Regions from separate parts of the Homo sapiens genome. Here all the other regions are linked to region 1. Evidence: fine-mapped QTL for protein levels in blood plasma. A gene starts in region 1. Each other region holds a variant in brackets. All regions are shown on one strand. Distances are from middle to middle. Region 1 holds the start of DNMBP (dynamin binding protein). Region 2 overlaps CHUK (component of inhibitor of nuclear factor kappa B kinase complex). Region 3 overlaps ENTPD7 (ectonucleoside triphosphate diphosphohydrolase 7).

The links. PIP is the posterior inclusion probability: the model's chance that the variant is causal. Protein levels are from antibody-based Olink assays in UK Biobank. Linkage for the fine-mapping came from a reference panel and not from the study's own genotypes, which makes the PIPs less certain.
Region 2: its variant is fine-mapped to the plasma level of the DNMBP protein (UK Biobank, PIP above 0.99).
Region 3: its variant is fine-mapped to the plasma level of the DNMBP protein (UK Biobank, PIP above 0.99).

What each region holds. Positions count from the first base shown.
Region 1 is chr10:100,007,734-100,012,963 of GRCh38, forward strand. It overlaps DNMBP (dynamin binding protein), which reads right to left and starts at 2,214. Exons shown (of 17, transcript NM_015221.4): 1 at 2,105-2,214. RefSeq lists a silencer at 1,987-2,506.
Region 2 is chr10:100,220,905-100,226,134 of GRCh38, forward strand. It overlaps CHUK (component of inhibitor of nuclear factor kappa B kinase complex), which reads right to left. Exons shown (of 21, transcript NM_001278.5): 2 at 5,019-5,113; 3 at 1,962-2,076; 4 at 1,208-1,277. Among named protein-coding and RNA genes, the nearest start is that of CHUK, 6.1 kb to the right of the region's middle. The variant T/G (reference allele first, on the strand shown) is at 582.
Region 3 is chr10:99,689,990-99,695,219 of GRCh38, forward strand. It overlaps ENTPD7 (ectonucleoside triphosphate diphosphohydrolase 7), which reads left to right. Exons shown (of 13, transcript NM_020354.5): 8 at 1,396-1,529. It also overlaps a transcript of COX15 not described here. Among named protein-coding and RNA genes, the nearest start is that of ENTPD7, 33 kb to the left of the region's middle. The variant C/T (reference allele first, on the strand shown) is at 2,965.

The DNA of each region.
Region 1 (5,230 bases):
GGCTCTTTCATTAAAGAGCTCATTTTACTGCTGCTACTTAAGAACTTTCTGCCTTTCCAGGCAAGAAACTAATAACTCATAATTAACTCCTGACCAACAAGACTAAGTTAACCAATCTTGAAAATTAGCTTATTCAGATGTTTTCCAGAGTGTGTATAATAAGAAACTATTTCATATTAATTGAATTGGTGTTGCAAAACTTTCCAGAAGTATTCTGAATGAATTCTAAGGATGCTTTGGCAGATGATCAAGCACATTCGAGAATTTCACAGGAGATAATCTCGTAATAATACCATGTTGTAGGTAATCCATTAGCTGACTCTAGAAACAACAGAATACTAAACCTAGAAAATAAGCCAAAAGCCAGGCTCGGTGGCTCACGCCTGTAATCCCAGCATTTTGGGAGGCTGAGGCAGGCGGATCACCTGAAGTCAGGAGCCAGAAAAGAGGAAGAGATTGATGGAACGTTGAGGGAAATGCCCTGCCTTGGGGCTGCAAGACAAATAAATAACTGGTGCATATTTAAACAGATCGTTTATGAAGATTATTATTATCTCAGCCAAAAAATACACAATATGAACACTGTATAAAAGTCAATTTATCACATTCTCTGAGTCAGACTGTTCTTGGCTTATTGCAAAAGTTATCAGTGCACTGCACGAACCCCGTTCCCAAGCCAGACTTGAGCTACTCTCCACCCTCCAGAAATCACTCCATTGCAGCCTCTGAATTTAAGTGAATTTAACACGTAAGTATCTGCAATTTGAAAAGTCACTTTTCACTTATTTTAGCCCAACCCTGATAAAGTGACTGAGAGAGCTGAGAATAATGAATTTGAAGATTCGCTATGCCCCATTATGCAGAATTCTAAAAATCTTTTCTTCTTAAAACATTTTTATTATCACAATGAGTGACGTGTTTCAAGTTAACATGTAAAATCGGAGAACTCGAGACAGAAGAGGACCTTAGAGATCCTTTAATTCAATATTTTAGAGAAAAATGGGTAGAGGATAAACTAACTTGCTGATCACCGTGTCGGTATTCATGCTGTGAAAGTAATAAACGGAACACCAACTGAGAAATGATCCCCGAATGCTGTCAGGTACTTCAGTCTTGCAAAAACTACTACAGATTAATCAGTCCTGCTCATCCGTTTAACTCAGCTATGTAAACAAGCAGAGCTAGACTATGCTCAAACCCTAAATATTAGCGTTACCACTCGCCTGCCACATACTACAGCATCATTAGTTATGAAAGTGTTTTAATACAAGATCTTCATGTTTGTGTAAAAGAATTACTATAAAACAGACCTAAAGGCAAGTTACCCATATTCCAGAATAAGTGAGTGCCAAAAATATTCACCCTTCATTACAGTACAAATGAGACAGGCAGTAATAATGAGACTGCATTTAAAGTTGTTTTTGCACTTAAAATTTAAGTCTATACTCCTCATCTGCATCAGGCCCCGGCCTGTTTGGTAACCTCAATATTCCTTTACTAAAGTGACAGCATCACCACCCTTTGAGACACAGATGCCCGGTGGACATCTGTGCCTGCAGCAGGAACGCGGGTGTCCGCGGGTTTCTGCAAAACTCCACCATGACCAAAGCTGCATCTCCAGCTGAACAGGTCTAACCCTTGCTTCGGAAGCCATCTGTCCCTGTCTCCCTGACACAGAATCACGGCCTCCTATGCCGTAAGGCTCCGAACATCTGTAAAATCAGCGGGGTGGACTAACGCAGAATTCTTTTTCCAGCTCTCAAAATTCCGCCTCATTGCCGGAGTGGCAGGGCGGTGCAGAGAAAGAGCCCTGGGCTTGACACCGCTTGAAAAGCCCACGTTCGCATTGCTCTGACCACCCCTCCAACTCCCGGGGACTACAGGAGTGCGAGGGGGCCCGCTGCGCCCCACTGTCCCTCGCGGGCTCCTGGCCCACAGAGCGCAGCACAGCGCCGCCGCTGGGAAAGGGCCGATACAGGCCTAGCCGCGCGGCGCGGCGCGGCGCGTCTCTCGGGGTGCGGGTCCCCTCCGCCCGCGGCCCCGGACCGCGACCCCCGCTCCCCGCCCGGCCCCCGCCCGGCTCCGGCCTGGCCCGGCCTCTGACCTGCTTTCCGCCGCCCGGCGGTCCCTCGGCGCGGCAGGCAGTTGCAGCCGCCAGTCCCCAGCCCGCTGTCACCTCCGCCCCTGGAAGCGGCGGGCGGGTCGATCCCGTGTGAGTCAGCGCGCCGCCCCGCCTCCCGCTCAGGCTTCCGCCTCTGCCGGCGCGGTCCGCGCGGCCCCGGGGGCGCCAAGCTCCGCTGCCCGCGCGCCCACCTCTCCGGCGCCCGCCCCGCGCTCGCGCCCCCTGGCGGCCGGCCCGGCCCTGCTCGCCTCGCGACGTCAGAGGGGCGTCGCTCCCAGAACGGCCACCGGGGAAACTGAGGCACGGGGGCCCGCCCCCGCCGCAGCGCGCCGACACGGCTCGTCGGGCCTCGGCCTCACGCAGTCCTACGTGCAGCCCCGGCTGCGGACAAGTTCCTCCACTCTTGCTGTTCCCCCACTCCCGACACCACCCTCCAACCTAGAAAAAAGTCAAAATTCCATTCAGAGAAGTCCAAGTCGATTCCTGTCTGCGTGTGATGCTGTCCTCTTTGCTACCCCGAGGCAGTTTCCCTTATTATGCCACACAATACTCGCTGGGGTTCGCCTCTATCTGTCCCATTTTTTTCTGAGGAAAGTCTCTCAGGACATCTTTGAGAATTTGAGAGCAAGAAATGACAGAAGCAAGAACTGGGCAGGGCTGTCAGAACTCCTCCTCCGACTCAGTTTCTGAATCCCCGCAGTATTCCCGTTGTTTGTTTAAAGACCACGAAGTTACACAGCTTGGCTATGTTGCTGGAATTGCTGCGCCTCACGTTTCTGGAATCTACCTAGAGGATTCTGAAGAAGGCGGCGAGTCTATGACTGTGCATGCACAACAAAAATAAATATTTCACAAATCTCATCCCATGCTGTATATGTTTCTCCTTCCCTTTGCTTTTTAAAAACTTGTGGTTAAATATATATCACATGAAATTTACCATTTTAATCCTTTTTAAGTGTACAGTTCAGTGGCATTAAGTACATTGACATTGTTCTGCAACCATCACCACCATCCAGCTCCAGAACTTTTTCATCTTCCCAAACTGAAACTGTACCCATTAAACACTAACTCCTCATTCTCCAGCCCCTGGTAACCATCATTCTACTTTCTGTCTCTATGATTACTCTGGATACCTCATATAAGTGGGATCATACAATATTGTCCTTTTGTGAGTGGCTTCTTTCACCTAGCATAATGTCTTCAAGGCTCACCCATGTTGTAGCATGCGTTAGAATATCCTTCCTTTTGAAGGCTGAATAATACTCAATTGTACGTATATAACATCTTTGGTTTATCCCATCTTTCTGTGGACATTTGGGTTGTTTGTACCTTTAGGCTATGGTGAATAATGCTGCAATGAACATGGGTGTACAAATATCTGAGTCCCTACTTTCAATTCTTTTGGGTATATATCCAGAAGAATTGCTGGATCATGTGGTAATTCTGTGTTTAATTTTTTGAGAAGCCACCATACTGTTTTTTTTTCCTTTGCTTTTTGAAGCATGTTAACACTGTAAAGAGAACATTTTGTAGTAAAATATCAACGTTCGGAGAGTCTTTAAAATTCTTAGCAATGCTTCATTTGCCTGTAAAACTGTGACTTTTCGGCGGATCACGAGGTCAAGAGAACGAGACCATCCTGGTCAACATGGTGAAACCCTGTCTCTACTAAAAATAAAAAATTAGCTGGTCATGGTGGTGGGTGCCTGTAGTCCCAGCTACTCGGGAGGCTGAGGCAGGAGAATCGCTTGAACCCGGGAGGTAGAGGTTGCAGTGAGCTGAGATCGCGCCACTGCACTCCAGCGTGGTGACACAGCGAGACTCCGTCTCAAATAAATAAATAAATAAATAAATAAATAAATATTTTAAAACAAGTGACTTTTCTTTCCTCAAGAAAGTAATTAACATTGCAAATCTATTGTCTTTATTTTTGGATAATGTTATTAGCCAAAATAAAAATAACTTATTATTCAGTTTCCTACAATTTTGTTTTCTGTGGATGTAGCTTTCTAAAGTTGTTTGGAGTCAAGTATGCCATATGAAATTCAGATGAAAAATCAAGCATTTCGTTTTATTTATTTTTTTCGCCACGTTGGTCAGGCTGGGCTTGAACTCCTGACCTCAGGTGATCCACCCTCCTCGGCCTCCCAAAGTACTGGGATTACAGGCATGAACCACTGCGCCCAGCCTGGGGATCGGAGTTTTTTGTTTGTTTGTTTTTTTGAGACGGAGTCTCGCTCCGTCTCCCAGGCTTGAGTGCAGCGGCGTGATCTCGGCTCATTGCAAGCTCCGCCTTCTGGGTTCCCGCCATTCTCCTGCCTCAGCCTCCCGAGTAGCTGGTACTGCAGGCGCCCGCCACCACGCCTGGCTAATTTTTTTTTTGTATTTTTGTAGTAGAAACGGACTATCACCGTGTTAGCCAGGATTGTCTCCATCTCCTGACCTTGTGGAGTTTTTAAAGATAATTTGGCTGGTGGGGTCTTGAGAAGTGGGGAGTGCTGATTGGTCAGGTTGGAGATGGAAACATAGGGGGTCAAAATGAGGTTTTCTTGCTGTTTTCTGCTCCTGGGTGCAATGCAGAACTGGTTGAGCCAGATTACCGGTCTGGATGGTGTCAGCAGATCCATCAACTGCAGGGTCTGCAAAATATCTCAAATACTGATCTTAGGTTTTGAAATAGTGATGTTATTCCAGGAGCAATTTGGGAGGTTCAGGCTCTTGGAGTCAGAGGCTGCATGACCCCTAAACTGTAATTTTTTTTTTTTTTTTTTTTTTTGAGACGGAGTCTTAGTCTACCGCCCAGGCTGGAGTGCAGGGGTGCAATCTCAGCTCACTGCAACCTCCACCTCCCGAGTTGAAGCGATTCTCGTGCCTCAGCCTCCCTAGTAGCTGAAATTACAAGCATGCACCACCACGTCCAGCTAATTTTTGTATTTTTAGTAGAGATGAGGTTTCACATTGTTGGCCAGGCTGGTCTCAAACTCCTGGCCTCAAGTGATCCATCCACCTCAGTCTCCCAAAGTTCTGGGATTACAGGTGTGAGCCACCACTCCCGGCCTTAAACTGTAATTTCTAATCTTGTAGCTAATTTGTTAGTCCTGCAAAGGC
Region 2 (5,230 bases), 210 kb after region 1:
CAAATAGAAATGCAACAAGCAATTGGGAAAATCCCTGAAACTCTTATAAGCCTCTTTCTCCCACCTAAATCACTCATTTCAATTGGACTTTAGCCCTCATGACCTTGGAAAAGAGGCAAAACCAAAATCTATGGGGAAACAAATTTTTGGTTTTTGAGGTTCCTCCAAAAGGTTAGGTACTGGTTATTTTAGGAATTTTTCTGGAGTCATTCTGATTAAGCAGAGATTTTTCACCCTGAAGAGTTGACTTGGCTGGGTGCGGTGGCTCACGCTTGTAATCCCAGCACTTTGGGAGGCCGAGGCGGGCAGATCACGAGGTCAGGAGTTTGAGACCAGCCTGGCCAACACAGTGAAACCCCGTCTCTGTTAAAAATACAAAAATTAGCCAGGTGTGATGGCGGGCACCTGTAATCCCAGCTACTCGGGAGGCTGAGGCAGGAGAATCGCTTGAACCTGGGAGGCAGAGGTTACAGTAAGCTGAGATCGCACCACTGCACTCCAGCCTGGGCAACAGAGCTAGACTCCGTCTCAAAACAAACAAACAAAAAAGAGTTGACTTGAGGACCCATCCCTCAAGGAGA[T/G]GTAATTCCACTGTAAACAAAATTACTATGTCAATGGTAGGGGGGGAGAGAAATTGAGTAAGGTCATTTCACATGATTTTTTTGTCAGCTATTGGAACATCTATTAGACAAAAAAAGGACTCTTAGCCACAAATAAATAATAAAATATCCTAGTTTCTTTTTGTGTGTGTGTGACAAAGTCTCACTCTGTTGTCCAAGCTGGAGTGCAGTGGTGCAATCTCGGCTCACTGCAACCTCTATCTCCTGGGTTCAAGCGATTCTCCTGCCTCAGCCTCCCGAGTAGCTGGGACTACAGGCATGCGGCATTGTGCCCAGCTAATTTTTGTATTTTTAGTAGAGATGGGGTTTCACTATGTTGGCCAGGCTGGTCTTGAACTCCTGACCTTGTGATCCGCCTACCTTGGCCTCCCAAAGTGCTGGGATTACAGGCGTGAGCCACCGCACCTAGCCAAAATATCCTAGTTTTAATTTAGCATCAATAGTAATAGATTTTTATAACTTCTTATAGATGTTGAAATTCTATAGACTTTGTATAGTGTATCAACAATTCTCCTGAATTCCCAAAAAGATCTTTTATGGGCCAAAGGGACATTACATTACAATGGTATTTTAATACTGATACGTACCTATATCACTTAGTAAAGAAAGTATCTGGCTTTCTTTAAGTCCACAACAATTTTCTGGTTTGTTGAGCAGCTAAAAAAAGAAAGAAATCTAAAAATCTGTTCTGCAAATTGCTGGGCTGCAATAGTGACCACACATTAATTACTATACTCTAAAAGAATATTCAAATGAGAAAATAAGTCATAATAAAATACAAGGGAATAAAATTACCAAATCCATACTGAGGGCATGTAAATTTCATGATAAGGCTCATAAAAGTAAAAAGAGGCAAAAAGCATTTGAAACTGGAAAAGGCTGACAAATCTCATGGATATATATAAAAATGGTCATATGGGCACATTTAAAATTAGGTAGAAAAAAAAGATTGCAATACAGAAAACAACTTTTTATAAGCACCTTAACCACTGAAATTTTCATCTAACACCATTGCTATAGTCCCATCAAACAGCAACAACAAAAATGCATTTTCTAAATCAGGAGTCAACATTTTCTGTAAGGAACCATATGGTAAATACTTTAGGTTTTGCAAGTCACATAGTCTCTGTTAAAACTACTCACTTCTGCAGCCATAAGAAAGCAGCCATAGACAATGTGTAAAGAAATGAATGTGGCTGTGTTCCAATAAAACTTTATTTACAAAACAGGAAGCAGACCATAGTTTTTCCGATTCTTATTCTAGTTTATTATATTTAACATGATTCAAACATTGCTAAAGTTTGTGATTTACTCTCTCTCATCTCAAAACATCCACACTACCTTTCGGAGATCTCCTCCAGAACAGTATTCCATTGCTAGAAGAGGCACATCATGAATCAAAATATTCAATTCTTCAGGAACATCACAGGCCTTTACAACATTGGCATGGTTCAACCTAATAAGAAAGAAAAACATTACAATAAAAAAAATTATTTCCAATAAAAAGGGACTGGATTTGAAATGCTACTTAATTGTGGGTGGATGAACAGAGGGGGAAAGATCAGTATTATTTATAATATTCTAATTTCTGATTTGTATAATTAAAAATTAGTAATTTTTTAAAAGAAAACACACATAAAAATACCATCACTATTACTACTATTACATTTCTAAGTGCCAAGCAGTAAACATTTTAAATATATTAACTCAGTTACTTGTCACAATAATCCTATTATAGGTAGATTTATTAATACTTTCACCACACAGGAGAAAATTGAAGCACAAATTGGCTAAGTAACAAGATCACACAGTGAGTAAGTCAAATCTGGCGTTCTAGGCTGGGTGTAGTTGTAACTGTAATCCCAACAATTTGGGAGGCTGAGGTGGGAGGATTGCTTGAGGCCAGGAGTTCGAGATCAGCATGGGTAACACAGTGAGACCTCATCTCTACAAAAAATTAAAAATTAGCCGGGTGTGGTGGCGCATGCCTATAGTCCCAGCTACTCCAGAGGCTGAGGTGGGAGGACTGCTTGAGCCCAGGAGTTCAAGTCAAGCCTGGGTAACATAGCAAGACCACATCTCTTTTAAAAAAAAAAAGAAAAAAAGAAAAAGAAGCAAACAGAATTTCCATGTACATGTAGGACCTGATAATTTATACTATTAAGCTTTCCTGGTGATTCTGCCACATAACCAAGTTTGAGAATCAAAATGGAATTAAGCACAGATATTAGAGTCAGAAAGTATTTATTTCAAATCCACACTTTACCAACCACCAGCTATGTGATTCTATAAGCTTCAACTTCCTCATTTGCAAAATAATACCTAAATATAAGATTGCTGTGATAACTGGAAGAATGATCTGTAAAGTACTTAGCACACTACCTGTGGAAGTTTTAAAATATGTCTACTTCTCTTTTTAAGAGCTTAACTCTCCTCCCCTTGAATGTAGGCTGTACTTAGTGACTCACTGTAACAAACAGAATGTGGTGGAAAAGGATGGAGTCTCACTTCCAAGTAAAGATCATAAAAGATACGTCGGTTTTCATCTTGCTCGCTCGTTCACTCTCTCTCTCTCTCTCTCTCTCTCAGATCACTCACTCTTTCTGAGGAAAAGATCTTTCTGGGGAAAGCTAGCTTCCATGTCATGAAAACATTCAAGCTTCCCCATGAAGAGGCCCACATGGCGAAGAACTGATGCTTTTGGCCAACATTCATATAAGTGAGCATGGAAGCAGATACTCCAGCCCCAGTCAAGCCTTTGGATTACTGCAGCTCCGACCAATATCCTGAGATGTCTCAGGAAAGACTCTAAGCTAGAATCACCCAGCTAAGCCACTCCCAAATTCCTAAGTCACAGAAACTATAAGATACTAAATGTTTGCTATTTTAAGCCACTAAATGTTGGGGTAATTTATTTTTTATTATTTATTTATTTATTTAGAGACGGAGTCGCCCAGGCTGGAGTGCAGTGGTATGATCTCAGCTTACCGCAACCTCCGCCTCCCGGGTTCAAGCAATTCTCCTCCCTCGGCCTCCCAAGTAGCTGGGATTACAGGCACCCGCCACCACACCTGGCTAATTTTTGTATTTTTAGTAGAGATGGGGTTTTGCCATGTTGACCGGGCTGGTCTCAAACTCCTGACCTCAGGTAATCCATCCGCCTTGGCCTCCCAAAGTGCTGGGATTATAGGTGTGAGCCACCACGCCCGGCCCTAGCTGACTTTTGTTAACTGAAATGAAATAGTTTTTTGATTGTGGTAAAACACACATAGCATAAAATTTACCACCTTAACCATTTTTAAGTGTACAGTTTAGTGGCATCAAGATGCTTTCCTTTTTTTTCAGACAGGGTCTTGCTCTTGTCACCCAGGCTGGAGTACAGTGGTATGATCTCAGCTCACTGTAGCCTTGACCTCCTGGGCTCAAGCAATCTTCCCACCTCAGCCTCCCAAGTAACTGGGACTACGGGCATGCACCACCACACATAGCTAGTTTTTATATTTTTTGTAGAGATGGGGTTTTGCCATGTTGCCCAGGCTGGTCTCGAACTCCTGAGCTCAAGCAATCCACCCACCTCAGCCTCTCAAAGTGTTGGAATTACAGTGTGAGCCAACATGCCCAGCCTGGCATCAAATACTTTCACAATGTTTTGCTACTATCACTATACTGCACAAAACTGTTTAATTCTGCAAAGCTGAAACTCCGCACCTATTAAAAATTATTCTCTATTTGCTGGTCCCTTCACCCTCTGGCAAACACCATTCTACTTTCTTTCACTGTGAGTTTGACTACTCTAGGTACCACACATAAGTGGAATGACACAGTATTTGTCTTTTTGTGACTGGCTTATTTCATTTAGCATAATGTCCACAAGATTCATCCATGCTGTGGCATGTGTCAGAGTTTCATTCCTTTTTAAGGCTGCATGATATTCCGTTTCATGAATATACCACATTTTGTTTATACATGTCTCTGCTGGTAGATACTGGGTTGCTTTTACCTTTCAGCTATTGTGAATAATAATGTTATGAATATGAGTGTACAAATTACTCTTTAAGTCCCTGCTTTCAATTCATTTTTGTATATACCCAGAAATGGAATTGCTGGATCATATGGTAATTCTATTTTTAATTTTTTAGGAATCACCGTACTGTTTTCCGTAACAGTTGCACAATTTTACATTCCCACCAACAGTGTGTAAGTGTCCTAGCTGATTTTAACTAAACCTTCTTAATCTTAATGTGATATTATTATTTGAAATAGAATATATTTAATGAGAGAAAAAAATATATGTTCCCAAAAAGATCCTGAGAAGAGTGGATTCCTGGCCTCTTTCCCCATGATGACATCTGGTTGGGCTGTAGAACCAGGGAAATGTAAGTCAAGGAATACACTTACTTCTTCATAATCTGGATTTCATGGCACCATCGTTCTCTGTTTTTGGTACTTAGCTCTAGGCGACAAGACTTAATTGCTATTTTGAGATCAAGTTCCTGCCAAAATAGAAAATCAACAGAAAAAAAAAATTAGGTTCTTGTGAAGATTTATTTGCTACCAAAGAAATAACTTAAGACAACAAAACTTTTTAGCTTTACTAATTAAATATATTT
Region 3 (5,230 bases), 320 kb before region 1:
CAAAGGTAACCAGTGAAAAAAAAGTTTTAATTATTATTATGAACTCATGGATTTTAATATATTAGATGCATTAGAGCCCATCACATTATTAGTATTTTAAGGAGCATCTTTAGGTTGGCTGCTGTATCCTTTTAATATGACCCCAATACTCTTTTATATTCCCCTTGCTATCTGGTACAGCAATGTATTCCAGGGTCATCTTGTATACTTTCTACCCTAGACCTGGCATTGGCCTGTTTTTAAAAGAGCCCTGGTTTCTTTTAGTAAAAGATGGTATTTAGAGATTATTGGTCCAGATACCACAGGTGGTCATTACTCCTGGGATATCATTGCTTCTAGGCCTTTCAGTGAACACAGCTAGGAAATATGTATTTTTTAGAAAGAGAAAAATAAATGAGTTCATAGTCATATTTCTGACTCATATGTAAGATTATAGGGTGCTATTAATTTATTTGATTTTTATACCTATATCCTTTTTGTTCTGTTATGCTGAATCTTTGTTCCTAAAGATATTGACATAAACATTTATTTGTTTTATTCCACAATATGTTTCATAATTTTTTTTTTTTTTTTGAGACAGTCTTGCTCTGTCACCCAGGCTGGAGTGCAGTGGTGCAATCTCGGCTCACTACAACCTCCGCCTGTCGGGTTCAAGCGATTCTCCTGCCTCAGCCCCCTGAGTAGTTGGGATTACAGGTGTGCAGCACCATGCCCGGCTAATTTTTGTGTTTTAGTAGAGACAGGGTTTCACCATGTTGGTCAGGCTGGTCTCGAACTCCTGACCTTGTGATCTGCCTGCCTCAGTCTCCCTTCATAATTTTTAAATAATAAAACCAACAATATTGTTAACAAGACTACTGCGATGTAGCTTAAGATATTTGTTTCTTTTGTCCTTAGGCTATATCCTACTAGGGATACGTAGTCAAAATGTCATGTTTAAGTAATTCACAAGAATTATTCTTTGTGTAATATATAGTTGATTCAGTTAGTATACTTGTTTGCTTTCTTTTTTTTATTTTGAGACAGGTTCTCTGTCACTGAGGCTAGAGTTTAGTGGTGCGATAATAGCTCACTGCAGCCTCAAACTCTTGGGCACAAATGATCCTCTGGCCTCAGCCTCCTGAGTAGCTGGGACTACAGGTGTGCACCACCATGCCCAGCTAATTAAAAAAAATTTTTTTTTTTTATGAGAGTGTCTCACTATGTTGCCTAGGCTGGTCTTGAACTCCTCGGCTCACATAATCCTCCCACCTTGGCCTCCCAGTGTTTTGGGATTACAGGTGTGAGCCATGGCACCTGCCTGCTTTCAAATTTTCAAGGGATTGCTGTTTTGGGGGTTTGACTTAATTTTATTTTTTAATTACTAGGGCCTTTTTGTTCTCTTATTTATTTCAGAATCAGATGCTGAGGCTACCCAGGAATTGGCAGCAGGACGGAGAAGGACAGTAGGGATACTGGATATGGGAGGAGCCTCTCTCCAAATTGCTTATGAAGTTCCTACCTCAACCTCTGTCCTTCCTGCAAAGCAGGTACTTTACCTTTTAGGGAAATTTAGTTGCTAGGAATGCTAGTATTTGAGAAGGAAGGACACTGTCTTTGGACTTAGACCAACCTACCTGGCTCTAAATATTTGTTCAGATACTTGCTAGCTTGCGTTATCTTGAGTAGGTTACCTCTCTGAGCCTCAGCTTCCTCCTGTGTGAAAAAGGAATAATAATAGTATCTACCTCATAAAGTTATGAGGATGAAATAATACCATGTTTGTAAAGCATTTAGCAAACTGTCCAGCATAAGTGTTCAATACATTTTAACAATTATAACTATACTAGGTATCTCCTGCCATTGCTGAGGATAAACATGATAATGCATTTACATTCTGGAGCACAGTATTTGATACATATCTATTGTTCAATAAATGTTATTCCCTTTCCCCTTACTGATGATTCCATTCTGGGCCTTCTAATAATCCTTACCCCACTAGAATGTAAAGAATGTATTTTGAGGGAGAAGTTTCATCCTACACAGACACTTTTTGTACAGCCATTATGTACACCTATTATGTACACCCATTATGTGCAAGGAATAGACAATATTATGTACAAGGAATAGACATGTGAGTTACACTGTCCCTAAAAACTTATAATTTATCTGTCAGTGGAGACAGCTTGTGATATCAGGGAGACTGTAGCAGTGCTTAACTTGATCTAAACCAGGGCTTCTCATCGTTGGCACTCTTGACATTTTGGGTCAGATAATTCTTTGTCATCAGGGGTTATCCCATGCATCATATGATATCTCTTGCCTATACCAGATGTCAGTAACAACCCTCCCCCTTCCAGTTGTGACAATCAAAAGTGTCTCCAGACATTACCAGATGTGTGGGGCAGGGTGGAAATTGCCCATCATTGAGAACATCTGGTTTAAACAGAGAGCTGTGGCAATATGGGGACTGGCAGCCAACTTAGCTTGCAAAGTTGAATGGGAGCCATTCTTGCTTCATGGAAGGTAAAGTATTTACCTGGGCCTTGGATGAGAGTAGGCTTTTTTTTTTTTGCAGAGTGGAGGCTGAGGGAAGGCCACCTGCATGGAGGGAACACTATATACAAAGGCACAGAAAAAGCAGCACAGAGGCCAGAATGTCCAGGGAATGACGAATAGCCTTTTGCAGTATAGGATTTTCAGGTGTGCTAGTAGTTAAGACTGGGAAGATAAGATGGAGCTAAATCATGAGCAGTATTGAGTGCTATCATAAGGGGACTGGCTTTTATTTCCATAGATAGTGGAAAACCACCAAAAGTTTTTGAGTAAGGCAGTCACATGGGCCTCAGTTTCATTTATAAAATAATTAAACTGTGAAGGTCCTTCTCAGCTCTGAATTTTGTGATGATGTCAGTTGTGTGACTGTGATCTGATCTTTTTGTAGTGAAAAAATTTTTGTGTCAGTAGGAGAAAGAATATAGGTCA[C/T]GGAACCTTGAGTGAGAAGTAATAAAGGGCTGAGTTAGACAAAGTAAGTGGAAATGAAAGGGAGGGGACAGATTTCAGGGGATAGTTTGGAGTGAAAACCCAATGTAATTGAGCGATTGATTGTGGTAGTGTGAGTAGGGTGGGAGGATGGCCAGCAGTGCTGAGGATCTATCCTAGATAACCAGAAGACTGAGGAACCCAGTAACTGAGAGAAGAGCAACAGGGGTAAGGGCAGGGGTGATATTAAGCAAACAGTATTGTCCTGAGAGATCTGGATGAGAGCGTCTATCTGGTCTTCTAGTTCAGAAGTTGTAAAACTAATGACTTCAATTTTGGATATATTGAGTTTAAGATACCCAAGGAACATATATGTCAGAATATCCACAGGACTGTTGGAAATGTGAGTTTAGCAGTCAGCAGAGAATTTCATGCTGGGGTTGGAAATGTGGGGGACTAACTAGGTTGTGATACTTTTTAGTCTATATTCGTTAGTATGTATTTAACAGGTAAAACGAAGGCATGGATCTGATACTAAGAAATAGGTGACAAGCGGGACTGGGGCTTCAAGTCTTAAAGAAATGACTTTTGTGTGTGTGCAGATTTAGAAAGGAACATGGTTATGGAAAGCAACACTGGTACGGAATGCATACTTGCAAGCAACAAATTAGATTTACATATAGCAGGCCGGGCACGGTGGCTGACGCCTGTAATCCCAGCACTTTGGGAAGCCAAGGCGGGTGGATCACCTGAGGTCAGGAGTTTAGGACCAGTCTGGCCAACATGGTGAAACCCCGTCTCTACTAAAAATACAAAAATTAGCTGGGCAGGGTGGGCAGGCACCTCTAACCCTGCTACTCAGGAGGCTGAGGCAGGAGAATCGCTTGAACCTGGGAGGCAGAAGTTGCAGTGAGCCAAGATCGCACCACTGCATTCCAGCCTGGGTGACAGAGTGAGACCCCATCTCAAAAAAAAAAAAAATAGTAACTACACATAGCAATATAATGGCTCTTCAAGATGAATCTTAGTGCTTGGTAAAAATGAAAGAAACTGTGAGACAATGGCATTTAAAACATTTTAAATAATCCTGAATGCCTAATATATTTTTTTGTACAACTCACAAAGTTATGTACATTCACAAAGTTGTGCAGCCACCACTATTGAATTCCAGAACATTTCATCGCCCCAAAAAGAAACCCCATATTCACTCCCCACTCATTTCCCATTAGCAGTCACTCCTCATTCTCTCCTCTCCCTACCCCTGACAACTATTCATCTACTTTCTCTCTCCAGTGGATTTGCCTATTCCGGACATTTTGTATAAATGAAATCATACAATATGTGGTGTTTTATGTCTGGCTTCTTTTATTTAGCAAAATGTTTTCAAGGTTCAGCCATCTCGTGGTATGGGTATTTCATTCCTTTTTAATGGCTAAACAGCATTCCATTGTATGACCAACCATGCTGTATTTTGTTTATCCATTTATCAGCTGATGAACATTTCAGTGGTTTTCCCTTTTTGGCTATTATGCACAGTGCTGCTGTGAACATTCATATACACATTTTTCTATGTACATAAGTTTTTTTGTTTTTTTTTTTTTTTGAGATGGGGTTTCACTCTTGTCACTCAGGCTGGAGTGCCATGGCACGATCTCGGCTCACTGCAACCTCTGCCTCCCAGGTTCAAGCGATTCTCCTGCCTCAGCCTCCTGAGTAGCTGGGATTACAGGCACCCACCACCATGCCTGGCTAATTTTTGTATTTTTAGTAGAGACGGAGTTTCACCATGTTGGCCAGGCTGGTCTCGAACTCCTGGCCTCAAGTGATCCACCCTCCTTGGCCTCCCAAAGTGCTGGGATTATAGGCATGAGCCACCATGCCCACCCCAGTTTTTGGATCTCTTGGTATGTACCTTGGAGTGAAATTGCAGGGCACAATGGTATTTTTCACAAATTAAAAAGAAATACATTCAAAACAAGAATCCTCATTTTATAATAATACATATATACAAAAATTATACATAACACATTAGAATGGTTGCCCATGGCAGAGAATGGAATGAGATTAAGTATGAAGATAAAAGAGAATAAATAAATAAAGCAAAAGAGAGGCTTTGCCATGATAATGTGGAATGAGCTGAGGAATATGATTAATTCAGCCTCTGCCCTTGAGGTTCAAGAAAAAAATATAGCACCTTTTCATTGGCGGTACAATAAAATTGAACTTTCCCAATCCCCAAACCTGTCATAAGGAACCTTAGGGCTTCTTG